7 linked regions of the Homo sapiens genome follow. The protein of the gene in region 1 purifies or fractionates together with the protein of each later gene. This does not show direct contact. Each region holds a gene or a part of one and is shown in the gene's direction. Other genes may lie near its edges.

Region 1 (2,576 bases):
ACACGTGTCTCTCCAGGATGGGGTTGTCATAGTGCCTCTTTGGGCTTTAATGTGGACCTAAGAGGGCTGAAAGGTAGCCCTGGAGCCAGAGGCACACCCCAAACAGGCAGCTATTGAAATGTGGTGACTGCTAGCTCAGTCAGCCTCCAGATGCTCTCTGCAGCCTGTAGGGCTTGCTTGGAGTGTAGGGAGGAGTGCAAGAGAAGGTGGGGGAGTGGAGAAAGGCCTTCCCCAGAGCAGTGTGTCCTGCTGTCTGGCTTAGTGCCCTTCGAGTCCCTGTATCCCCAGCCTCAGCAGACTCGGGTCCCCACTGCTTTCTCCTTGGCCAGCTGGAGGCTGAGACCACAGGTCATCTCCCCTGGCCCAGGGTGCAAGGAAGGGGCACGAGGGCTCAGGATGAATGTAAACGCTCTATCTCTGAGCCTGGTGACCCAATGTTTCTGCCCAGCCTCCAGTGGCAAGGTGTGGGGGTGGCCCGGGCTGTCTTTTCCCGATGGTGGCTGTGTCCAGTGGAGGGCGTTTTGGTGTCGGCTGGGCTGGGCTAGCTTTAACAACAGGAAGTGGGAGGCTTCCCCGCCTCATCCGCTTACTGGGAACCAAAAGTAGGTGCCTGGCTGGGAGGAAGGAAGGAAGCTGAGGCCTGGGGGAGGGGCTGCAACTGGGGCTGCCTGGAGCTTCTCAGCCCTGCCCACCACCCCCTGGGTCAAGAGGGCTAGGGGTGCTGCCTCAGCATTTGAACTCCCCCAACGAGGGAGGGGAATAGAGAGAGGGAAGCAGGCTTCGCCAGGCTGGGCCTGGCTAGTGGGTACCTTTATCCTTCCTGAAAGCTCCTCCCCGTCTGGGTAGGGGGACCTTTTTCCTCATTTGACAAGTGAAGGAATTGAGGCCCAGGCATCCCTTAGGAGTCAGTGGGACAGGATCAGTCACCAGCTACACCCTGAAAAGGCCAAAAATAAAGCCAGCAGAAACAGACTGTCTTTGGATCACCTGGAGGTGGGTTTGGAGGCCAGGCGTTCCTCACATCCTGGTGTCACCACTGGAGGCTGGTCCCAGCACCCCCTTTTCCCACCCCCAATCTCGAGGTCTGACCACACAGCTCCTCATGAAGCTGCAATGTCTGTCTCCTTGCCAGATGATCCTGCCCCAGTGCCTTAGCCATGGGGCCCCCTGTCAGTCCCTGAGTCTGGAGGAAGCACCTACTGTATGCTTTACTCCTTGGTTGGGAGGGGATGGGAGAGGAAGCTCTGTCAGGACAAAGGCAACGAAGAACAGTGGGTGAACCCGTATGTCATCTTGTAGGAAGGCATTGATTGCGTGCTAGCTGTGTGCCTGGCTCCTGGAGGGTTCAGAGTCAGGGTGGTGGGGACATCAAGGACCCCATGGCTGCCTCTTGTGAATCTATGTCCCTGGCACAGCTGTGGCACACAGAGAGGCAGCTGCCCCGGGGTCCAGGAGAGATTACAGGACTGAGTTGTTCAGTAGCTCGGCCAGTATTTATTGAGCTTCTATGTGTCAGACAGAGGAGTCTGAGGGTGGCACTGGGGGAAGCTGGGAGGGTTGGAGGGGAAAGGGGACAGGAAGGTTGGCCCCATCCAGTCAGCTGTGGTAGGAGATATCACTGACACATGGGCCTCCTGAGGAAGGTCTAGCAAGTGGCAGGGGTGGGGCCCATTTAAGCACACCTCACTTATGAAGCCCCATCACAAGTGATAGTGTGGCCATCATCCCAGTCCATGTGTCTTAGGAGCTGGAGTTAAGGCCTTGGGGACTAGCTGGGCAGATGGCAGAGCGAAATGCAGGGCCAGGCCACCTACTTCCTTCCAGAGGAGCCTCCCTCAGGCCACTTTCCTAGAAGACTCTCAGGGACAACCCATGGGAGCGGCTCCAAGAGAACCAGCCCAGCCCCCAGTCCCAGGTCATGGCCTGGCAGCAGCGGGCGCTGAGCTAGGAGGAGCTTCTGTGTGGCCTTGGGCTTGCCACTTTGTCTCTGTGTCTGTTTCCTCGTTGATAAAATGGGCTTACTGGCCATGGTGCAGATGACCCAAGAGGATGCAGGTGACACCCGTGACAGCAGTCGTTAACGCACATGGCAGTGGTAGGACTAGCCATGATCACAGGCATTACAGTAGTTCATGTTTGTTGACCCCTCACTTGGCTCAGGTCCTTATGAGACCACTGTGCATAAATAGGCCCATTTTATAGATGAGGAAACAGACACGGGTGTCCAGTGCCTTGGGGCTAAAGTGTGCAGAGCCCTCTCCACAGCAGTGCTGTTGACCTCTATTCCAAGTTGCTGCCCTACCCACACTGGGCTTGGCCAGGTCCCTCAGGGGTCGGGCAAGACCAGCCAGCCACCATGCTGCCCTCTGTGCCCCAGCCCCACCTGCCCACCCATGTGGGAAGGCTCCTTGAAGGAGGCACCTCCCTGACCCATGCCAATGTGTTTCAGACGAAGCCCGCTCCAAGAAGTGTGGTGTCCTGGTGCACTGCCTGGCAGGCATCAGCCGCTCAGTGACGGTCACTGTGGCCTATCTGATGCAGAAGATGAACCTGTCACTCAACGACGCCTACGACTT
Region 2 (3,500 bases), on another chromosome or scaffold:
ATTTTTAAAAACAACTTTGTAATTTGGCAACACACATGCTTCTTTATTAAGGCATTAATTAGGGAGTTCTCGCAGTGGGTCTAAGCACTATCATAATGTTGAAGCAGTGGTGAGCATAAATTATGCTATTTTGAGAGATCTGCAACAGTGGTAATGTGATAGGAGGAAAGTATCTGTGATTAAATTGGTGACAGTCACAGGTTTTGCTAATACTAATGTGGTCTGTTGACAACATGCATAACTGGAAGGAAATGTCAAACGTCAGCTTGAGAACAAGAAAAGCTGTCGTTTTTTTCTTGGCTATCTCAGTTCTTGGGCTCCTTGCAGGGTCTTCCACTGACCTCAGGCCAAGAACCCCTGCCCTTCACAGAGTTTTGTGGAAGACTACACCCATGAACTAGAAATTGCTGTTCTGAGAAGCAAGGGCTGTGTGGTCAGATCAGGGTGAGAAAGGCTGTAACCTTGGCTCCTGGGCGAGACCCACAACATCTGCTGCTATTTGAAAGCCTTAGAGGAGGCTGACTGTGTAAAGAAGACGGATTCTGCTTTGCCCCAGAGGTTCCCAAGTTTTTTTTCTGACCACAGAACTTTTTTGTCTTGGAACCCATCTTAACCATCTCTCTTCTCGGGAATGAAAAGCCCAGTCTCTGTTGCGTTTGCCCAGGATTCAGGGTAGGCCACTCCTCCTGGGCACTGCGTTCTCCACATCCCTCTAACGCACAGGCCACAAAGCCAGACCACAGGCTCGTGTGACTTGGCTCCTGTCATGTTTCATAAAAATGAATTAATTCTCACGCCTGTAATCCCAGCACTTTGGGAGGCCAAGGTGAGTGGATCACCTGAGGTCAGGAGTTCGGGACCAGCCTGGCCAACATGGCGAAATTCCGTCTCTACTAAAAATACAAAATTAGCTGGGCGTGGTGGCGTATGCCTGTACTCCCAGCTACTCTGGAGGCTGAGGCAGGAGAATCACTTGAACCCAGGAGGCGGAGGTTGCAGTTAGCCGAGATTGCACCAGCCTGGGCAACAAGAGTGAAACTGCATCTCCAAAAAAAAAAAAAAGAATTGCCCATATATTTGAAAGTCAAGAGGCTGGGCATGGTAGTTGCCTGTACTCCCAGCATCATGGTGGGTGCCTGTACTCCCAGCACTTTGGGAGGCCAAGGCAGGAAGATCACTTGAGCCCAGGAGTTCAAAACCAGCCTGGGCAACATAGTGAGACCCAATTTCTACCAAAAAAAAAAAAAAAGAGAGAGAGAGAGAGCAAGAGAGACAGGCATGGTGGCATGTGCCTGTGGCCCCAACTACTTGGGTAGGCTGAGGTGGGAGGATCACTTGAGCCCGGGAGGTTGAGGCTGCAATGAGCTATGATCACACCACTGTACTCCAGCCTGGGCAACAGAGCAAGAACCTATCTTAAAAAACAAAAAGAAAAAGAAAAAGTCAAGAGATTTCATAGGAAGATAACCTGAATTTCTAGCTCTTCCTGCAAAACTGGAAGATCTGGCCACATGCAGCTGGAGCTGTAGATGGTCCAGGTGCCAATAGTTGGGCTGTTTGCCACAGTCCCCACCATACCTTATTGTGTTCCATCTTATTTTATTAACTGGTCTACAGAAGCTCCAGCACAGCACAGCCTGCGGTCACTCGTTTGTGGGTTTTTTTTTGTTTTTTTTTTTTTTTTTGAGTTTGGCTCTTGTCGCCCAGGCTGGAGTGTAATGGCACGATCCTGGCTCACTGAAACCTCTGCCTCCCAGGTTCAAGCGATTCTCCTGCCTCAGCCTCCAGAGTAGCTGGGATTACAGGCGCGCACCACCACACCTGGCTAATTTTTGTATTTTTAGTAGAGACGGTTTCATCATGTTGGCCAGGATGGTCTTGCACTCCTGACAGGTGATCCGCCCACCTCAGCCTCCTAAAGTGCTGGGATTACAGGTGTGAGCCACCTCGCCCAGCCTCAGTAACTATTGTTTTAAGGCTGTTGATAGAGAATGATTGCAACAGCTTGGTGGGAAGTGGGTAGGGTATACGGGGGGGATGAGGAGGGGTGAGTAGGAGGGAAATGGTGGGAAGGTAGGTGTTGGCAGTGCAGGCCTCCCTTGATGCAGGTGCCCACCTTGGGATGGGAAGAGGTGGACATCTGTGTGCCTGCCCTTCTCCCCTGCAGATGTTTATCATTGACAAGGTGGATGGGGACATCTGCCTCCTGAATGAGTTCTCCATCACCGGCTCCACTTACGCTCCAGAGGGAGAGGTGTAAGTCACCCAGGCATCTTCTCCCCAGCTCCTCACGCCCCTTCCCACACCCCCTTTCTCCCTGGGGCCCTCCATGTGGTTTTGCTCTCCTTTCACTCTCCTCTTCCTCCCCGACCTTGTTCTCTCTCCTGATATCCGAGTTGGCTCTCCCCACTGTCCTTCCTTACCCTCTGCTGCCTGCTCTTCCTGTGCCCTCTCTGCATCTCATTCCCTGTTCTTCTCCACTGTCTCTGTCCCTTCCTCCCCTGACCCTGCTGCCAGCTTGAAGAATGATAAGCCAGTCCGGCCAGGGCAGTATGACGGGCTGGTGGAGCTGGCCACCATCTGTGCCCTCTGCAATGACTCCTCCTTGGACTTCAACGAGGTAACCTCTCCTTCCCCTTCCAGTTGGCTCAGAGTCTGGGCCTCCTCCGAAGGCCAGGAGGAAAGGGTTGGAGGAAGGGGACCCAGTACACCCAGCCCTCTGCCAGGGTGCAAGGGAGGCAGTGGTTTGCTTCCTTCTTACGCTAGGTGGAAGGAGGGTATGACAGGTAGGAGCCTGGGGCACCGACTTCCTCTTCCTCCTCTGCCCATCTCAGGCCAAAGGTGTCTATGAGAAGGTCGGCGAGGCCACCGAGACAGCACTCACCACCCTGGTGGAGAAGATGAATGTGTTCAACACGGATGTGAGAAGCCTCTCGAAGGTGGAGAGAGCCAACGCCTGCAACTCGGTGAGCCTGCGGAGCCCCTGCCACAGGGCCGTCTCCACTCTATGCTGCATAGACTAGAGGAAGGCAGAGGCCCTGGTTGGGCAGAGCCTAGTGCCTGTGCTGGGACCCCACCCAGGCAGCAGACAGCCCCTGCAGCTTCTCCACAGGCTGATGTGGGTGGGACCCATTGTCCCTGGGGCTGCCTGGCGGCCATGCCCTTGATGAATCTATGATCACTTCTGCCCGCTGTGTCCTGATTTGAAGTGGACAAAGCTGGACACGGAAACCACAAGGGACCCATCCAGGAGCAGCCCCAACTTCATCTGTTATTCCTTTGTTTCTAGAAGCACACTTGTTTTCAGCAGATGATGAGTCCTGACTTAGGATTTGGGAAATGTGGCTACTGCACCTATAGGGAAAGCCTTTCCTTGCCCAGATGAACCCGGCCACTTCTAGGACTGTCACTCCCAGTTATTGCTATTGATACTTGCTGAACGTCTCCATTAAGCACTTCTCTCTGGGGAATTATATTCCCCACATTTCTCTCTTTCTCTC
Region 3 (3,500 bases), on another chromosome or scaffold:
TTATCTCATCTTCTGATTATCTGTATTTTATAGATGAGGGAGATAAGACTCAGAGAGATATAACTTGCCCAAGGTCACACAGCTAGGAGGGGACAGGTCAGGATTGGCAGAATCAGTCAGTAAATGTTAATTGAGCATCTGCTTGATGCCAGGCACTGTAGTAAGTGCTGGGTGTTCAATATTGACAAGAAAATTCAAGTCAGACCTCATCTATTTTCTAGAGATTGTCAGTTTATGTAAGAAGAGCCAGTGAAGAAAGAAAAAGATTAGTTGGAGAGATTTCTGTAGATACTGAGGAATACACTGTTTAGAGAAACCTGGGATAGAGTTTTAAAGAGGTGGTGGTTAGCAACAAAGTATATAGCTGAGAGACTCAGAACGATTGAGAAGAAACCATTGAGTTAAGTAAGTAAAAAAGTAATGTGAATTTAGTCACAAGAAAGCTGGAATGAAGATATTAATGTTTGGGCTGGTAGTTAATTGTGTTTAGTGGCAGGTACTCTATACAAATTTAAATATTTTCACAGTTATGGTCAGATTCATAGGAAAGATGATGGTATGACCCCTTGTAATGTTTTAATCTTTGGCTGGAAGATCATGGATGCTTTAAAATGCTTGCACTTTTTAGTTTTTTCAAATTTAAAAAAATGAGCAGGCAGACCGCCTGAGCTCAAGAGTTCAAGAGCAGCCTGGGCAACATGGCAAAACCCCTTTTCTATCCAAAAAAAAAAAAAAAATTAGTTGGGCAAGGTGGTGTGCACACCTGTAATCCCAGCTACTTGGGGGGCTGAGATGGGAGCCTGGGAGGTTGAGGCTGCAGTGAACCTTGATCATGCCGCTGTACTCCAGCCTAAGTGACAAAGTGAGACCCTGTCTCAAAAAAAAAAAAAAAAGTGAGCATTATTTTTATAATTAGTGGGGACAAGCATTCAACTGAAATGAGCTAATACTCAGGAAAATGTGGGTAGGCTAGTCTGAACTTGGGGTAGGAGAGAAGATAGTCTTATTTCAGTCCCTACTTGGTAAGAGCCACCTTGGTAGGTGTGTTCCTATCTTGGAAATGACTGGATTGTCACTGATGGAAACTGAAACTGTATGTACTGAAAGGTGGTATTTGCTTAACCTGAAGGATCAAGTTACTAACCCACCCTGAATGGTGGAGATACAGTCTTTGTTTTCCTGAACACTTGTTTTCTTAGAGTTTAATACATGAATTTAAGGTTTAAAAAAACCCAACAAACCACTGATAGAATTGTGTCATTTTAACTGCTTCTTTTGGCTTTATATCCTTCTTCCTACACATTGGTTCTATAGTTCCTCTCATTAATGGGTTTGCAACAGGCTTAGAGTTTCAGTTCAGTAAGACAAAATGGAAGTGCTGGATTTAGATATAGCTGATCAACTTAAACACTTATAAATTCACCATTGTTTTCGGTTCCCAATTTGAAGAGTGGAGACAGAAGTCAAGAAAATAAGCTTTTCTTATTCAAAGAATGATTCCCAAACCAATAGGATTTGCCCTAGGATCAGTACAGACTTATTACAGTCTCCTAAACAGAGAGGAAAGAGTTGCGTAAATTCATCTAGCTTTTAGTTTAATTTCACTTAGCCCATAGGGATTCTGAGAGGAAACGATATTAATGTGATTCCTATTTCATCTAGGCACTGTAGCATAATCCTTCAACAAATTACCACATTTGATTCTCATATAATTCTCTAAAATGTGAATACCATATTACAGATGAGGAGAGTGAGACTCAGAGAAGTTAGTAACTTTCCAAGGTTGGAGAGCTAAGTGACAGAGCTGGGATTCAAACCTTTCTTTGTCTAACTCCAAAACTCCATGCTTGTGAAACTAATAGCACGGAGGACTGATTTATACCTTCAACTGAAAAAAAATGCCACAAGCCTTAGGTATTTGTTACCTTAGAAGATGAGACTCTTGCTCTGAGTGTTTGTGCTCTGTGACACTGCCTCTAAATAAATGACAGTGATTTTTTAGTGTCTAATAGGATACCTTATATTTTCTTGCTTTAGAGATGTATGTTTTCATATTTTAGAATTTTTTGAAGATGTATATTGTCTATATTTACTTCAAAATGTTTGTGAAATGGTTACTATGTCTTAAATGTATCTCAAAATTGATGAAGCATGGCATATGCCTGTAGTTTTCACACATAAGTATCTTACCAATTTGTTGTGCACTTTTTCTTCCCAGCCTTCCCCATCTTATCCTATTATTTTTTTAAATATGATTTAATAAATAATTGAAATATATACTACCAATAAAATAACTCATTCTCTTTCATTAGTTAACATTACAGTGTACAGAAAAGCATTATGATGTAGAAAATTCAAATTGGGCCGGGTGCGGTGGCTCACGCCTGTAATCCCAGCACTTTGGGAGGCCGAGGTGGGCGGATCATGAGGTCAGGAGTTCGATACCAGCCTGGCCAATATGGTGAAAACCCCATCTAGTAAAACTACAAAAATTAGCCGGGCGTGGTGGCGCCCACCTGTAGTCCCAGCTACTCGGGAGGCTGAGGCAAAAGAATTGCTTGAACCCGGGAGGCAGAGGTTGCAGTGAGCCAAGATAGCGCCACTGCACTCCAGCCTGGACAACAGAGCAAGACTCCGTCTCAAAAAAAAAAAAAAAAGAAAAAAAGAAAATTCAAATTGAACTGTGAATCAGCAGATCTGAGCTTTAATTTTGGTTTTGTTAGCTACTTGATGTGTAACTTGCTAGGCAAGTCACTTCCCCTCTATGGGCTTTAGTTTCCTCATCTGTAAAATGGAGGGGGAGGAGAAATTTTAAGCCCGTCTTCCTTGAATAGGTTGTATGCCTTCTTTCTAATTAAAAACATAGATGCCCTAGATGCCTTTCTTAAAAACTGTATTACTGCATTTTACAATATTTTCTTTTAATCTTCCTTCTTTCCCTTCTTAATTTAGTAGAGAGGATAAATTATTTTTGGTATCCTACATTTACCAGGACAGCATATCTTAGGAAGCAGGGACCCAGAAAATAATGAATGAGTGAATATATGTTTTATTTGAGCTAATGAAAAATTTTTTAAATAAAGTACCGTCAAAAAGATGTTGAAGTTTCATTGAAAAGTAGTTCTACCTAAAGAATGAAACGTGTTTAGTAAAGTTCAATTGGTCTGTTCTGTATTGGATAGATGTACAAAGAAGAACACTCTTGAACTTGTCTTTAAGAAGCCCTCTTACTAGTAGGAGAGGCAAGCTTCTAAACTTTGTATTATGGAAAATTGACAGCAATAATACACACATCACCAACTTTAAGAGTTACTAACTTGTGGTCAGTCTTGCTTCATCCATACCTCCATCCACTTCCTTCTTTATTTTGAAGCAAATCCCTAGACTTTTTTTTTTTTTTTAACCAGTTGTTACCATGCAGTGTGATAAGTATAATAATAGACATGTTAATCCAAGTGAGGTGCAAATTTGTTCATATAAATATATTTTGAGACTTGAGC
Region 4 (3,928 bases), on another chromosome or scaffold:
GTCCCCAAGCCCTGGGCCGCGGACCGGAACCAGACAGTGGCCTGTTAGGAACCAAGCCGGATAGCAGGAGGTGAGCGGCGGGCGAGTGAGCATTATCGCCTTGAGCTCTGCCTGCTGTCAGATTAGCGAGTGGCATCAGATTCTCATAGGCACGCGAACCCTATTGTGAACTGCACATGTGAGGTTTGCCGGCTCCCTGTGAGAATCTAATGCCTGATGATCTGAAGTGGAACAGTTTCATCCCCAACCCACACACACCCCCACCCCGTCCGCTGGGTTAGAGGACTTTACAACCCTAGTCCACCTTGTCCAGTTATAGTTCCACCTCTAGCCTTTCAAGGCTTAAACCATTAATGTCCTTAATTTCTCTTGTATTCATCTATCTCCCAACTATACCTTTTTCCTTCCCTTTTTTATTTTTGGCAATATGTGCCCATGGTTTTTTAATTTAAAACGAACAGAATATGTAGTGACGCCTACCATAGCACTCCTTCCCATCACACAAGCCTTCAAGGAAACTGAAGTACTTACTTTGGTCTCCCTGGAGGATTCCCTCCGCCTCCCGCCCCATGTGCTTAGCAATTCTGTTCCTGTAGTCTGGATGGCCTTCATAAAGCCCTCACTGGACCAGCATTCTGGCACATAATAGGAACACTTAAAAAACGAGAGAATGATGCCGTTATATCTAATATCTTCCTCTTCTGAACTTTCACAGCACTTTATTTGCAACAAGTTTAGTTGCTCCTGAAGGGCAGGATCTCTGCCGGAAGCAAGTGCGTGCCACACAGTGGGGCTCCGCATACACTGCAAAAGGACAAATAAACCGAACAGCTACCGTTTGAGAGTGAGCGAGTGGGTTCTCTGCACAAGAACAAACCAACCAGTCCCTTGTCCGAAAGGGCGTCTCCTTTTCTCTGCTTCGCTGCTCACTCCAGACTGCGGGCTGTCCTCTTCCGAAGCAGTTAACCAGCAGTGTACAGAAAGCGACTTGCCTCCAAAGGAGCCTGCGCGGCCCGCGGCTAGGAGAATTTTGTCCCATGCGCTCCCCGTCTCACTAGCCGCGGGCCGGGGCTACGCCGTGTGCGTCCCCGCGCAGCCGCAGTGCTGGGCGAGTGGGCGGGGCCGGCTGTTGGCGGCGGTTGGCTCGGCGCGGGAGTCGGCTGCACGTGCGGGCGGGGGCGATGCGTCACTGATCGGTGAGGCGCGGCCGAGGGGTCGGCTTTCCTCGCGAGCCTGCGGCTGGGCTTCTTCTCAGTTAGTGCCTTCCACCCGGGAGCGACCCTTGGGAGAGGGAGTTTCAGGAAGCTCACCGAGCAGGGGCGGCCCACTGGCCTCCGGGGGCGGAGGAGTTGGCAAGGGGTCAGCGGGCTCAGCCAGAAGGGAAGAATGAGGGGACAGGGGTACTGGACTCCCCGGCTCAGCCTGCGAGAGAGCGCCAAGTTTCCGGAGGGAGAGGGTAGAAACTGGAGGGGGTGGACCTGTCACTCACGGGACTGAGGGTCCTTTTCTCCCGCTCCCAGGAGGAACGAGAATGAATATGACTCAAGCCCGGGTTCTGGTGGCTGCAGTGGTGGGGTTGGTGGCTGTCCTGCTCTACGCCTCCATCCACAAGATTGAGGAGGGCCATCTGGCTGTGTACTACAGGTGAGCGGCATGTGCAGTCAGTTAGGGCTCTAGAGCAGATTAAAAGGGTACTCCAGAGTGGAGTCTGGGAAGTTGTTCCCTCTGCAACGTTCGGGGGCGCATGTCCCATCTCTAGGGAGAGCACGGGGGTCGAAGCGGGCTTTTGCGGAGCACCCTCCAGATGTTGGACAGTTTTAGTGCTATGTTCGTTTTGTTGCAGAGATTAAGTCTCCCTACGGTTATTCCTATACACAGCAAACTCAATTATTTGTAGAAAAATGAAGAAGGAAGAAAGGAAGTAGTCACTCTACCTCTAACTGAAGAGATGGATAAATTATAGTTCGTTCAACTGTACAGGCTTTAGTTTGCCGCTGTAGATGCTGTATGTTTATGGTTGTTTCTTAGACTTTTTCATTTAAAAGCTTCCAGTGTCTGGTTACGTCTTGTAACACCATGATGACTGTGATGGTGCTTATGTCCCTGGACCTCCAGGGACATAAGCACAACACTGATGGGCCATGCTCCTCCCTCCTTACTGTTGCTGTTCAAGTTGGGGACAGGAGTGGTGTGGGAGCTGTTGCTCTCTTGTTGAGCTCGCTTAGCTTTTCCTTCAGCCTAATTACCACAAGTTCCTTTTGATACAGACTAGTAAGAGAGGCCAGTTTGTGGAGAAATTGGGATAATGGTGTATTCAAAAAGAGCGTCAACTTTTTGCTTGTTTCCACTATCCCTCAAAACTGATATTTCTACTTTCAAATCCATCCTGAATCCTAGAAAAAGAGCAATTTTAATGGTATATCTTAGCAGATGGAGCTCTACATAAGAAATTACAGATTAGTCCAGATTTCCTTCCAGTTTAAAAGCATTGTCTTTCTGACAGTAAAACCAGAGAAAGGACATTTCAAGGAATGACTCAAAGAATTAGTAATGAACCTCAAACAGTTCATCTTTCCTTGTTATTATGACCTTGCAAATGTGTTTATATTTTCAAGACCGGTAGCTAAGTTCTATGAATTTACAAGGTGCAAAATAGGACTTTGTTTTCTTTGCTCCCCAAATGCCTCCTTTTTATAATTTCCAGGGCTTGCTTTCATAGTTTTCACATTCCAGGATTTGGTTAACAAGCCCTTATGCTATTTATTTGTATAGTCTTGTCACCCTTCATCTTTTCATGCTAATTTTTTGTTTTTATATAGAAATTTTATGTTCCCAGTATTTTAATTACCTTGTAGATAGATCGAAAGAATTATAAGCCTCAGAAATTTTCTCTTTACTTCAAAGTTTGCATTGTCTTTTTTTCAACCTGGTGATTAAATGTATTATATATTTTGATTTGGCTCTTGTTATGTACTATTAATGTACCTCTACTGAAAGCCATTAGAATTTTTTAAACAAATATTTCTCAGAAGGTTAAAGACCGAGGAGAATCCTTTGAACCTTAGAGCAGTGCTGGAGACCCAGAGGTACGGTTGGTTGAGCTTATGAAACAAGGTGTAACATTGGCAGTTTAATTTGATCTTTTTCCCTTTTTAGGTGTGGAGGTATTTTAAGCAGTTGTTCATTATGAGCAATTCATATTAGTGAGGCTTTAGTAGGTCAGCAGCATGAGCAAGAGTGAGTATTTATTATAGCATTTTAGATTTGGAAAGATAATTTTTCTTTTTATAATTTTGTCAAATTGAAACATCTTTTTGCAGGGGAGGAGCTTTACTAACTAGCCCCAGTGGACCAGGCTATCATATCATGTTGCCTTTCATTACTACGTTCAGATCTGTGCAGGTGAGTGATTCCTAGGGGAAGCCTCCATACCAGATAGACAGGCATGACAGGAGTTACCACACTTGTGGGTGGAGATAGATTTCCTTATTGCTTAAGCAGATGGTGGTATTTACTTAAATGCAGAAGTTAACGTTCAGAGTACAGTTGTTACAACACAAGTTATGATGTTAAACCACCTCACTTACTTGAAATGAATTAAAGGTATGAACCAGGAAGCTTGGAAGGACTGACTTCTACCATCTATATCGTGGTATATAGCAAATTTTCTGTTGCTGCTGTCACAATAAAAGTAAGAATTAGAAACACAACTAGACATACAAACCAGTGATTATGTGGTTTAGAACAGTGTTTAGTTTCCATAGAGGCAGGCTCCTGGGCTACTGTTAACATGGAGGATCAAAATTTTTATACACAGCCTTTCTGCCTCATGTTTTTTTGCCTGGTATATTAAGCACAATTTTATGTGGAACCTTAGTGAATGTTATATTTTGATGGCATCCCGGGATATTTGAAATAAGTGTCTAAT
Region 5 (3,500 bases), on another chromosome or scaffold:
GATAAAGTTTGTGTTGAGTACATCTAGGCTGGGTGTGGTAGCTCACGCCTGTAATCTCAGCACTTTGGGAGGCCAAGGCAGGTGGATCATCTGAGGTCAGGAGTTCGAGACCAGCCTGGACAACATGGTGAAACCCTGTCTCTGCTAAAAATACAAAAATTAGCCAGGTGTGGTGGCAGGCGCCTGTAATCCCAGCTACTCAGGAGGCTGAGGCAGGAGAATCCCTTGAGCCTGGGAGGCAGAGGTTGCAGTGAGCCAAGATCGTGCCATTGCACTCCAGCCTGGGGTATAGAGTGAGGCTCTGTCTCCAAAAAAAAAAAAAAAAAAAGTACATCTAAATGGTACGATGCCCATGTTGGCCTATTTGGAATGCCATTCCTTGTCCCACAGAGCCCTGCTCCTCAGAGGCACTTTTCCTGGAGTGACTCTCCCCTTCCTCACCTACACTCACTGTCATTCAGCTGTAGATGCACCAGCGATCATGCTAGTGGTTAAAATATCGAAATACTCCCATCCTGGCTAGAGAATAGCTGCTACCCAAGTGCCCCCGCCCTTCATATGGAAACTAAAGGGTTAATACATGGGGCAGTAGAGGAACTTTGGAGCCCTGTTTTGGTGCACTGGCCTGTGTCTTTTCTGGCTGGTTGGTGTCTGGCCGTACTGGCTATTAAATATTTTGATGAGCATCCCAGCCTCTGTCCCACGTGCATCTTTTCATGAGTGCATATCTGGCTTCCACAGATTGGCACCCCAGCCACACTCTAAGCTCTGGGCACATGGGAGACCTAGTCATTGTCATCTCTGTGTTTTCAGCAGCGTTTAATACAGGGCCTTACCGCTAGTAAGCATGTAAGATTATCTAATGATGGATTGAGGGTAGGGCAGGTTCCGATGGTCAGATGTCCCATAGAAGGTGGTCCCTAACAAGAATATACATTGTAATGTTCCAGGTTTGTCTATTCTGATACTGTGCAAAACGTAGATCTTATAGCCAAGATCAAGGCATCGAAAGTCTGTGGACCTAAGCCTGTGCTTTCACTGAGTGAAGTTTGTGTTTCGGAGTACATCTGAGGTGTTTCTTTCCGTGTAGTTTCACTTGTGTTGGAGAAGCAGGTGGCTGTGGTCTTTGCAGGGTGTGAGAGGGGAGGAGATTAGTGTTGAGCTCCAGCTAATGTTACATAACTCTACTGTAGTCTTCCTTTACCTGGTATTCTTGTGTTCAAATTGCCCCTTGTTTCTGTGCCACTAGTGAAATGGTCAAATGGCTCATTGTTCCTTCTGTAGGACAGTTACCTACATTGCGCCTCAGGCAAGCTTCTGAGGCATCCCAGGATGGGGAGCTGGCGGGGGACCTTATCTGTCAAGCAGCCCAGCCAGGCACCTCACAGTGGACGGAACTGAGTTCTTGAGGGGGTGGCTGAGCAGCCCAGACTCCCAGGTTAGACTCTGAAGACAGCCAGTCTGTGCTTTTCTCTCCTGATGTGAGTCAGAGGCAAACTCTGCCGATGCCAAGACCTCCCTAGAGTTCAGGCAGGGTGAAGATCCTTGTCCTTGGGGTCAGGGCTGAAGCTTCAGGGTGTCCAGGACAGACCTTCAGAGGAGGCCAGCCCTGGAGCCTGGCGTGGGTCTCGGCCTCAAGCCTCTCTGTCCTGCAGAGAGGCCGGCTCAGTCTCTTCACCCTCTCAGGCAGGCCAGGCGACGGTCACCAGTAGCGTCCTGCTCTCTCTGGCATGCTTCCCTTCATCACTGGGTGATGCTGAGTGTCTTTTCCTCCCTCTTTGATGTGACAGTCCCTTTTTGCAGGCTTTTGCAGGCACTGTCCCTCTGCCTCCCAGGTGTGGCACGCATTTCAGGGTGCCTCCATTAGCAGTTTCATGCATTGTTGCCCATGGTGGGGAACAGATGGAGACACAAGGCAGGCAAGCCACCAAAGAGGCTGCAGGGCTGCTCAGGAGATGGAAGGACTGTCTCCAGAGTGGGGTGTATGCCCCATAGTGGCTGCCTAGACCATCCATTAGATTGTAGAATAGAATAGAAACATTAGAACTTCTATGGATAGTTATTTTTTGGCCATCTTTTAAATTCATATTTGTGTGTTTTCTAATGGTCAGAAAATACTTGTATATGGTTTATAGATAAAAGCATTTAATGTGAGGGGTGCATTTATTTATTGGGGTACATCATCAGAAGTCTAGAGAACCAGAAAGTTAACTCCTTCTCTAGCACCAGTATCATGAGAGACCTCTGAATGCCATTTTTTAAAAAGGAAAGAATTTGTCAATTAAAGGGGAATAGAAACTGCTCTCTGGCTAGGTTGTGATTCATGTCAAATAGGCCTGTGACTTAAGGAGAGTCAGGTTAACTCCAGAGTATGTTTTGTCTCTGGTCCCAAAACTTAGCAGTGTGGAAGCCTCATTGGGATCAGGGTTTTATTTTTTTCTCTTTTGTTTACTATCATATCCCCTGAGGCTGGAGCTGACTTGCATATCCTCAATATTTGCAAATTGAATATATGGGCGTTTTTCTTGCATGATAATTAAGTATTATGCTGAGTTGGATGCTTCAAGTCAATATTCAGGTTGCCTCCTTTTGTTTAAACCTTTGGGCAGTTGGCAAGATGCAGCCTACATGCCAGTCAGTTTTACTGTCCTGCACATGATACCCCCACGCGGTAGAACCATAGAGCCGTGGAGGCCTCAGAAATGTCACCTGAGAGACAGGGTGTTGGGATGTAACTTAAAGTAATTTTTTAAGAAGTGGGTATAATGAAACAGCAAAACGTTGATCATTACTGAAGCTGAAGTTGGAGTCACGGGTACATAAAATATAGTTTTATTATACTTCTGTGTCTACTTTTGAATAGATTTGAATTTTCATAATAAATTTTAAGTGAAACATAAAGGGAATATAGAGACCCCAAACTAGTATCACCCATTCCGAGCAGGTAATGGCCGAACTGCATAGTCTCTTTTTCTTTCTGTCTTTTAAACACTGGTCATTATTCTATAATCTTCTGCAACTTGTTAGGTTTGTTTTGATTTTGGCTTCCCCAGAGCCAGTCACCTCTTTTTATAGTTACCTGAGCTCTTTGTGTAATTTTAGCTCATGTCTCGTGGTTGTCACCAGTACCTCTCTTCTCCTTCCCAATACGATGAGCTAAATCCTGGTTAACCTTTTCCCTATTTCACTTGTTGCTTCCTCCAACACCACTGAGGTCTTCCACATGACAGGCACAATTCAGAGGCCAGAACAGGGTCCCATGTTTTTTGCAGGCTGCGTCCAGTCCTGGGGAACCTCATAGCCTGTGATTATCTTCTAGATTCCATTCATGTCTGCTTTTTTTTTTTTCTTTTGGATGGCGTCTCTGTTGTCCAGGCTGGAGCGCAGTGGTGCCATCTTGGCTCACTGCCGCTGCGCCCCCCACAGGTTCAATCGACTCTCCTGCCTCAGCCTCCGAGTAGCCGGGACTACAGGTGTGTGCCATCACGCCTGGCTAATTT
Region 6 (3,145 bases), on another chromosome or scaffold:
AGCAGAGCTTTAGTTTATCTCAGTCCTGGATGGGAGAGAGAGGGAGGAGTAAAACTGGGCAAGACAAAGAGCCCTGGATCGTTGAATTGATAGTTTAATTTCTGCTGTTGGCTGTTAATAATTTGGATTATTTATGTTTATAAATGATACAGATCTGTTTACAAGGTTTGTAGATACTTTTTTTGTTCCTGTTCATAGATGGGAAGCTTCCTTATAACTGATGCAGAGAAAAATTAGTCCTTCAAATACTGCTGTATTTTCAGGAAAAAAAAAAAAAGGGGTGTTTCTATTGAAACTGTACTAAATTTTTGCCTACAATTTACCTTGTTAAATATTGTAGATAAATTGCTAATACTAATAGCCAAATAGATAACACTAATGCTTTGTTTAAAAAAACGAAAAAAACAAAACAAAACAAAAAAACATGAGCAGTGGTGTTCTAATGAAGTTATGACATCTGTCCTAATTAGTTTCTTAAATACATTTACTACTTAATGGTTTTGAAGCAACTGTTTAATTTTTAAAATTTTTGAAAACTTGCTAATAACCTTTTGTTCAGAATTTAGTAGATTGTTTAATGCAGGACATCAACTACATAATGAAAGATGCTTGAAATGCTTTTGTTATTTCAGGCAAATCAAATTAAATCAGACTATCAAACTACAAGAGAACCTTAGTCTTTTTTGTTTTTGTCTAAACATGTTAGTTTAGTGATGTCTTGGTGAACTGTGAGTGAACTGTATTGATTTTTCTAATCTTTAGAGACCTTCACACAGCATGAGGGCTGTTGGCATTTTGAAAAAGGTTAATAAGTAGAAGCATACATGTTTTCCTTTTGTTTTTGAAACTTGTTTGTAAACATAAATAAATATGCCCTTTTATTAAATAAATTCATGGCAATGTTTTTTTAAAAGACATTTCAGCTTCTTTACTCAGTTCTGCATATACAGTGCATCAGTCTGTTCTCTTTGACCACAATTGGAATACATTTCAAGATGGTAACAGCCCCATGAAGTACCGCTTTAATTCCTTGCTGGTAATCTAATAGAATCAGATTAAGAAAATTAACACAATTTTACCATTTGACATACTCTTCATTGAATTTAGTTTGTCTAAAATAGTCTCACAGGTAAAAAACATAACAACAATGACCACCATTGTCTTTGATACATTTATTTTAATTCTTAAGTGGCCAAATAACAGATTAGGTAAAATGAGATTACATGAAAAGGTTCTAAAATGATATATTTAGATGCAATAATTAACCATATGCTAGAATGCCCACCTCTAAGCCAATTGGATTCTTTAGCTCTCTTTTTCTTTCCTTCATCTACCTTCTTCTCTTTTTTGCCTCTGTCTTTACCCTTTAGAAACTGGCATGTGTTAGGGCCCAGATTTCACCAGATACACAATCCTCAGGCTGACATAAAGTTTACGAGGACTGCTACTATAACTGAGAGTGCTGACCAAGCAAAGAAACATTTAGTTGATGGTGCTTGATATTTTTGGTGGGTGGGGGAAATCTTTTTCTCACCATCAAATCTTTGCAGTAATCCTCTGCAGGTCTTAGAAACACATTGGCTCTGTCAGCATTTGTAATTGTACATTTATTCATCAGGTATTTATAGTGAATCATACTGTAAAAAAGAGGTAGCATGATATGCTGGAAAGCATATTAGACTAGGAGTCAAGACCTGGTTTCTAGTCTTGGTTTTGCCATTAATGTGCTGCATGATCTTGGGAAAATCATTTACCCTAAATAAGGGTGGTGGACTATCTTGAAGAACCCTTTCAACTCTAAAAATTGACCCTATCAACTGGAGAGCCCACAAGGCATAGGGAATAGAGAAAAGGGAAATGTTTTCAGTTTTCTTTTTTATTTTGGTTATGCTTAAATATGAATGTAATTACCAAAAGATTTAGAAGTGCATGTGCTTTGGAGGATTTGTATTGAGCTTTTACAGTATTCATTTTTCAACTCAAGGCAATGGCTTTCTACACCAACTCTAATCCATAAACGGGTCTTATGACATCTATGAAGTAGTAGCAAGACATGCTTAGTGTGTATTTCTCTCTTTGAGACACTGTAATTTCTACCAGAAATTTCCAGAGCATTATGTAGGTAGAAAAAAATGCAAGCAAGCTGTTAAAGATCTTGGATCCCATTATATAGTATGTATAGCTGAAATCTGTAATTCAATCACTTTTTCTCTTTTATCCTCTAACCAAAAAATTGTTTAATTTTGCATCCCAAATGTTTTTAATCTTTGTATATTTTTTAAAAATCCTTTTCTCCTCATCATTGCCTTTTTTGTGGTTGTAAATAGACTTACTTGCACTTTGAAGATGAGTTACTCCTTGTCATCTTACAAATATGTGATATGGTAATTTTCATAACAGATGTCAGTTTTGAACCAAGAATTGGTGATTTGTTTATAAGAAAAAAACTGGCTTCATTTCTGTGAAATTGCTCTTTGAAAATTTCTTTTTACACGTGTAAGCCAACTGAGATACCGTGATGGTGTTGATTTCTTTCAATGATGCTTACCATCTATTTTAGCCACTGAGCCTTTTATTATTTGTCTATTTGTAAAGTTTATTTGTCTTAACTCATTTAATAAATATACTGTTTATCTGTTTCTGAATGGGGACTGAACTTTTTGGATATTGATATTGATTTGAAAATATTTTGGAATTTTTTCTACTTGAAATTTTAGAAATCTAATTGAAAATTCTATAATGTACTTGAAATGTTATGGTTGTGTTACAGTGAATCACTCTTCTAATAATATGCATGATCTTGCCTCTAAAATGAGAGTGGGTACATTGTCCCTACTCTCCAACCCACTGTCCTCAACCCTTATAGCACAATAGATCATTTCTGCAGTCTATGGGAATGTAATCTGCTGGTTTTAGTACAGATTAGTTTTTCACATTAGCTGTAAGAGCTTATTTTTATTTCATTATCCATACTTGTCAATACCAGTTATCTGAACTCTATGGTAAAAATTAATAAAATTATCCATAGTTGTTTTTTATAATAAGTTATTAATATAAACTAGCAACTTTGTTGAAATACTGAGTAAACTTTAAATGATGATGAATACCATATTTTTCAGTTAGTATAAATCATTAGTAAATTATT
Region 7 (3,500 bases), on another chromosome or scaffold:
TTCCCAGGCCTGTGGCAGGATCTGTGGACCTGTGTGTCCCCTGGGGTGTCTCATGGGGCTAAGGAGGGGACCTTTGTGCAGGTCTACGCACCCTGAGGTGTGCCCTGGGTAAGCTGGGGTGGTGTGGGAGGGCGTCCCTGCACCCTCATCTTGAGTCCAGGGGATGATAAGACAGTAAGTCCCGTGGAGAAAAGGAATGAGTCAGTCTTGTTTGCTGTTGTAACCTTAGCACCCAGCAACAATATTAGAGAAAGCAAGCCCAGGCCTCAGATGGCAGGGGTGGCCTGGTGCTGCTGATGTGGCTGGGCACCCCAACCTCTGGGAGCCTGCAGGCCTCGCCACGGCAGGAGATGCCTCTCCTGGGTCCCGGGCCTGCTCTATGGCCTCTCACAGGCTTTTTTTCTGCTCCTTCAGCTCAGAACCTGAGGACCCAGTCACGGAGCGGTCGGCCTTCACGGAGCGGGATGCTGGGAGCGGGCTGGTGACGCGTCTCCGTGAGCGGCCAGCCCTGCTGGTCAGCAGCACGAGCTGGACAGGTCTGCAGGACCCCTGGGGCACTTGGGGTTGGTGTGACGGGCACCTGGCCAACCTGTGTTCTCCTCACCCCTGCCAGTCCTGCATGCTCCCACCCTGCCACGGTCTCAATGAGAACGGGAGGGCCTGTGAGCTGGAAGAGGGGTGTCTAGAAACAGGCCCCTGACATTCAATTCTCTTCTCATAGAGGACGAAGACTTCTCCATCCTGCTGGCAGCTTTAGAAAGTAGGTGTGTGGCTGCGGTGAGGAGCTCTGGGCTTGTCGGGGGCCACTGAGCTGTAAGCTGCTTGCCTGGCCTGCAGCATGTTCCTGTCCCAGGCCACTGGGTGGGGCAGCCTGGGGACAGCGGGGGTGGTGGAAGTGGGCCGCCCTGAATCCCCAGTTGGGTCATTGAGTGACCAGGCCCTCAGGCTGAAATGCCCCCTCCAGGAGAGTATCTCACACAGGCTGGTGGCCTCCCCGCCAGAGCAGTGCTCTTTCTCCACCTGACCAGGTGACTCTGGCTATTGTTTATTTAAAAATTTTTTTCTGAATGGGCATGGTGGCTCAAACCTGTAATCCTAGAACTCTGGGAGGCCGAGGCAGGCAGATCATCTGAGGTCAGGAGTTCGAGACCAACCTGGCCAACAGGGCGAAACCTGTCTCTACTAAAAATACAAAAATTAGCTAGGTATGGTGGTGGGCGCCTGTCATCCCAGCTACTTGGGAGGCTGATGCACGAGAATTACTTGAACCCAGGAGGCAGAGGTTGCAGTGAGCTGAGATCGCGCCATTGCATTCCAGCCTGGGTGACAGAGTGAGAGTCTGTCAGAAAAAAAAAAAAATTCTATCAGAAATTCCATGTAGAATTGTTTCTTTTTCTAAACACAGAGTTTGAACAACTGACTCTTGATGGACACAACCTTCCTTCTCTCGTCTGTGTGATAACAGGTACTGCCTGGGACCCTGGGTGTCTGTTTGGTTGGGGGATGGCGGAGGGGGAGGGGCACGCAGCCTTTACCCTGTGCTTCCCATGATCTTGTCTCCTTAATCCTCACTGCAGCTCTGCCATAGGGTCTTATACTGCTTGACATGGGGGAAACTGAGGCTCAGAGGCAGGGCAGGGAGCCCAGATTTGAATCTGTAGATACCAAGCTTTCTACTTTTTCAGTAGTTTCCAAGCATCTTTTTTTTGTTGTTGTTACGTCATTGGTGTCTTTTTTTTTTTTTTTTGAGACAGAGTCTCTGTCGCCCAGGCTGGAGTGCAGTGGTGCGATCTCGGCTCACTGCAACCTCCGCCTCCCACATTCAAGCAATTCTCATGCCCCAGCCTCCCGAGTGGCTGGGACTACAGGTGCCCACCACAACTGCCTAATTTTTGTATTTTTAGTAGAGACAGGGTTTCACCATGTTGGCCAGGCTGGTCTTGAACTCCTGACCTCAGGTGATCCACCCGCCTTGGCCTCCCAATATGCTGGAATTACAGGCACAAATCACTGTGCCCGGCCATGTCATTGGTGCCTTAACCAAGCCTCTTAATTTTTCAAACGGAAGAGCCCCTGTCCCACAGTTACTGCTGCTGAGCCCTTTCAAGGTGACTCAGTGAGGAGGGAGAAAAGCGGAAGCGGTGTGGGAAGAGGCCGGGTCTGGGCCAGCTGCTGGTCCTGCTCTCCTCCCTCCTCTGGCCTCTAGGCTCCCAGGAGTGGTTTGGAACCCGCGCCATATGCTCTGGGGGCTGTGCCAGGGCAGGAGGAGTCCTCGTGTCCCCTGTGCACAACACAGACAAAAGGCTGGGTCCACCCAGTGGGCGGTCGGGTGCCAGGCCAGTGCTTACCCCGCCATGTTTGCAGCCCGAGGCCAGCTGGCTGCAGGTGAAAGGCTATGCGTCAGGGGTCAGGGTGCACACACCCCTGCAGGTCTCAGGGCTCCTGGGTTGCTTCTGGAAGGGCCCGGATGGGGCCTGACTGGAGCTGCTGAGGGGTGGAGCTTCTGGGAAAGGGATCCCTCCTAGGGGGGAGTGTCTTGGGCCTGGGGCCACGTGGCAGGGACAGAGATGGGTCCATGGCAGTGTCTGCTCTTCTCTGTGAAGGCAAAGGGCCTCTGAGGGAGTATTATAGCCGCCTCATCCACCAGAAGCACTTCCAGCACATCCAGGTCTGCACCCCCTGGCTGGAGGCCGAGGACTACCCCCTGCTTCTAGGTGAGAGGCCAGCAGGAGGCTCAGGGAGGAGGCGGGGGGAACAGGGTGGGCGGGATGTACTTTTTCTGAAAAGGTGGCTCTGGAGGCCACTGGGGGACGGGACCTGGGCTCTGGCTGAACTCCCAGGAGGAGGCTACTTCCTGGTGTGCCAGCCCCTCCCTGCCAGGTGGCCCCAGGGGCCGTTTACCAAGGGGTTTGAGGAGGCCACGTCCTTTCAGCCTGCCACGCCCTCCATTCAGTCCTCTTCCTTCCTGCAGGAGGGCTGGGCCTGGGGTTGGGGCCACTGTTGCCCAGGTGTGGGAGGGCAGTGGCTTTGGGAGGTACGGGGACGATGTGTCAAACAGCGTCGCCTCTCCCAGTGAGATGGTTCTCCTTTGCCTCCGTCTCTTTCCCCGTTGATTTCTCCAAGTGGGGAGTCGTGCCTTGGTCCTGATGCGTCTCTAGAGCTGCATCTTCCAGCTTCGAGTGAGCAGAGCAGTTGGAGGCTGAAGGCCTTTTCCTGGCAGGACTCTCCACCTAGTCTTTGTTTTAGACAGTCTCGCTCCGTTGCCTAGGCTGGAGTGCATGATCTCAGTTCATGCAACCTCTGCCTCCTGGGTTCAAGCGATTTTCCCACCTCAGCCTCCCGAGTAGATTACGGGATTACAGGAGCCCACCACAACACCTGGCTTATTTTTGTATTTTTAGTAGAGACAGGGTTTCACCATGTTGGCCAGGCTGGTCTTGAACTCCTGACCTCAAGTGATCCTCCTGCCTTGGCCTTCCTAAGTGCTTGGATTCCAGGTG

The links.
Region 2: the proteins of DUSP7 (region 1) and ATP2A1 purify together in Homo sapiens (affinity purification with mass spectrometry, with the first as the bait; one large-scale study listed by BioGRID). This does not show direct contact.
Region 3: the proteins of DUSP7 (region 1) and FAR1 purify together in Homo sapiens (affinity purification with mass spectrometry, with the first as the bait; one large-scale study listed by BioGRID). This does not show direct contact.
Region 4: the proteins of DUSP7 (region 1) and ERLIN1 purify together in Homo sapiens (affinity purification with mass spectrometry, with the first as the bait; one large-scale study listed by BioGRID). This does not show direct contact.
Region 5: the proteins of DUSP7 (region 1) and ACSL1 purify together in Homo sapiens (affinity purification with mass spectrometry, with the first as the bait; one large-scale study listed by BioGRID). This does not show direct contact.
Region 6: the proteins of DUSP7 (region 1) and ATP2B1 purify together in Homo sapiens (affinity purification with mass spectrometry, with the first as the bait; one large-scale study listed by BioGRID). This does not show direct contact.
Region 7: the proteins of DUSP7 (region 1) and ALG1 purify together in Homo sapiens (affinity purification with mass spectrometry, with the first as the bait; one large-scale study listed by BioGRID). This does not show direct contact.

The regions. Positions count from the first base shown.
Region 1 is NC_000003.12:52,050,996-52,053,571, reverse strand, and holds part of DUSP7 (dual specificity protein phosphatase 7), read left to right. Parts: intron 1-2,449; coding exon 2,450-2,576. UniProt on the Homo sapiens protein: Dual specificity protein phosphatase. Shows high activity towards MAPK1/ERK2. Also has lower activity towards MAPK14 and MAPK8. In arrested oocytes, plays a role in meiotic resumption.
Region 2 is NC_000016.10:28,891,988-28,895,487, forward strand, and holds part of ATP2A1 (sarcoplasmic/endoplasmic reticulum calcium ATPase 1), read left to right. Parts: intron 1-2,167; coding exon 2,168-2,256; intron 2,257-2,517; coding exon 2,518-2,620; intron 2,621-2,834; coding exon 2,835-2,966; intron 2,967-3,500. UniProt on the Homo sapiens protein: Key regulator of striated muscle performance by acting as the major Ca(2+) ATPase responsible for the reuptake of cytosolic Ca(2+) into the sarcoplasmic reticulum.
Region 3 is NC_000011.10:13,671,668-13,675,167, forward strand, and holds part of FAR1 (fatty acyl-CoA reductase 1), read left to right. Parts: intron 1-3,500. UniProt on the Homo sapiens protein: Catalyzes the reduction of saturated and unsaturated C16 or C18 fatty acyl-CoA to fatty alcohols. It plays an essential role in the production of ether lipids/plasmalogens which synthesis requires fatty alcohols.
Region 4 is NC_000010.11:100,183,230-100,187,157, reverse strand, and holds the start of ERLIN1 (erlin-1), read left to right. Parts: upstream 1-1,128; 5' UTR 1,129-1,531; coding exon 1,532-1,644; intron 1,645-3,320; coding exon 3,321-3,402; intron 3,403-3,928. UniProt on the Homo sapiens protein: Component of the ERLIN1/ERLIN2 complex which mediates the endoplasmic reticulum-associated degradation (ERAD) of inositol 1,4,5-trisphosphate receptors (IP3Rs).
Region 5 is NC_000004.12:184,815,969-184,819,468, reverse strand, and holds part of ACSL1 (long-chain-fatty-acid--CoA ligase 1), read left to right. Parts: intron 1-3,500. UniProt on the Homo sapiens protein: Catalyzes the conversion of long-chain fatty acids to their active form acyl-CoAs for both synthesis of cellular lipids, and degradation via beta-oxidation. Preferentially uses palmitoleate, oleate and linoleate.
Region 6 is NC_000012.12:89,587,549-89,590,693, reverse strand, and holds the end of ATP2B1 (plasma membrane calcium-transporting ATPase 1), read left to right. Parts: 3' UTR 1-2,645; downstream 2,646-3,145. UniProt on the Homo sapiens protein: Catalyzes the hydrolysis of ATP coupled with the transport of calcium from the cytoplasm to the extracellular space thereby maintaining intracellular calcium homeostasis.
Region 7 is NC_000016.10:5,078,343-5,081,842, forward strand, and holds part of ALG1 (chitobiosyldiphosphodolichol beta-mannosyltransferase), read left to right. Parts: intron 1-414; coding exon 415-536; intron 537-721; coding exon 722-760; exon of another isoform or gene 761-764; intron 765-1,405; coding exon 1,406-1,465; intron 1,466-2,603; coding exon 2,604-2,714; intron 2,715-3,500. UniProt on the Homo sapiens protein: Mannosyltransferase that operates in the biosynthetic pathway of dolichol-linked oligosaccharides, the glycan precursors employed in protein asparagine (N)-glycosylation.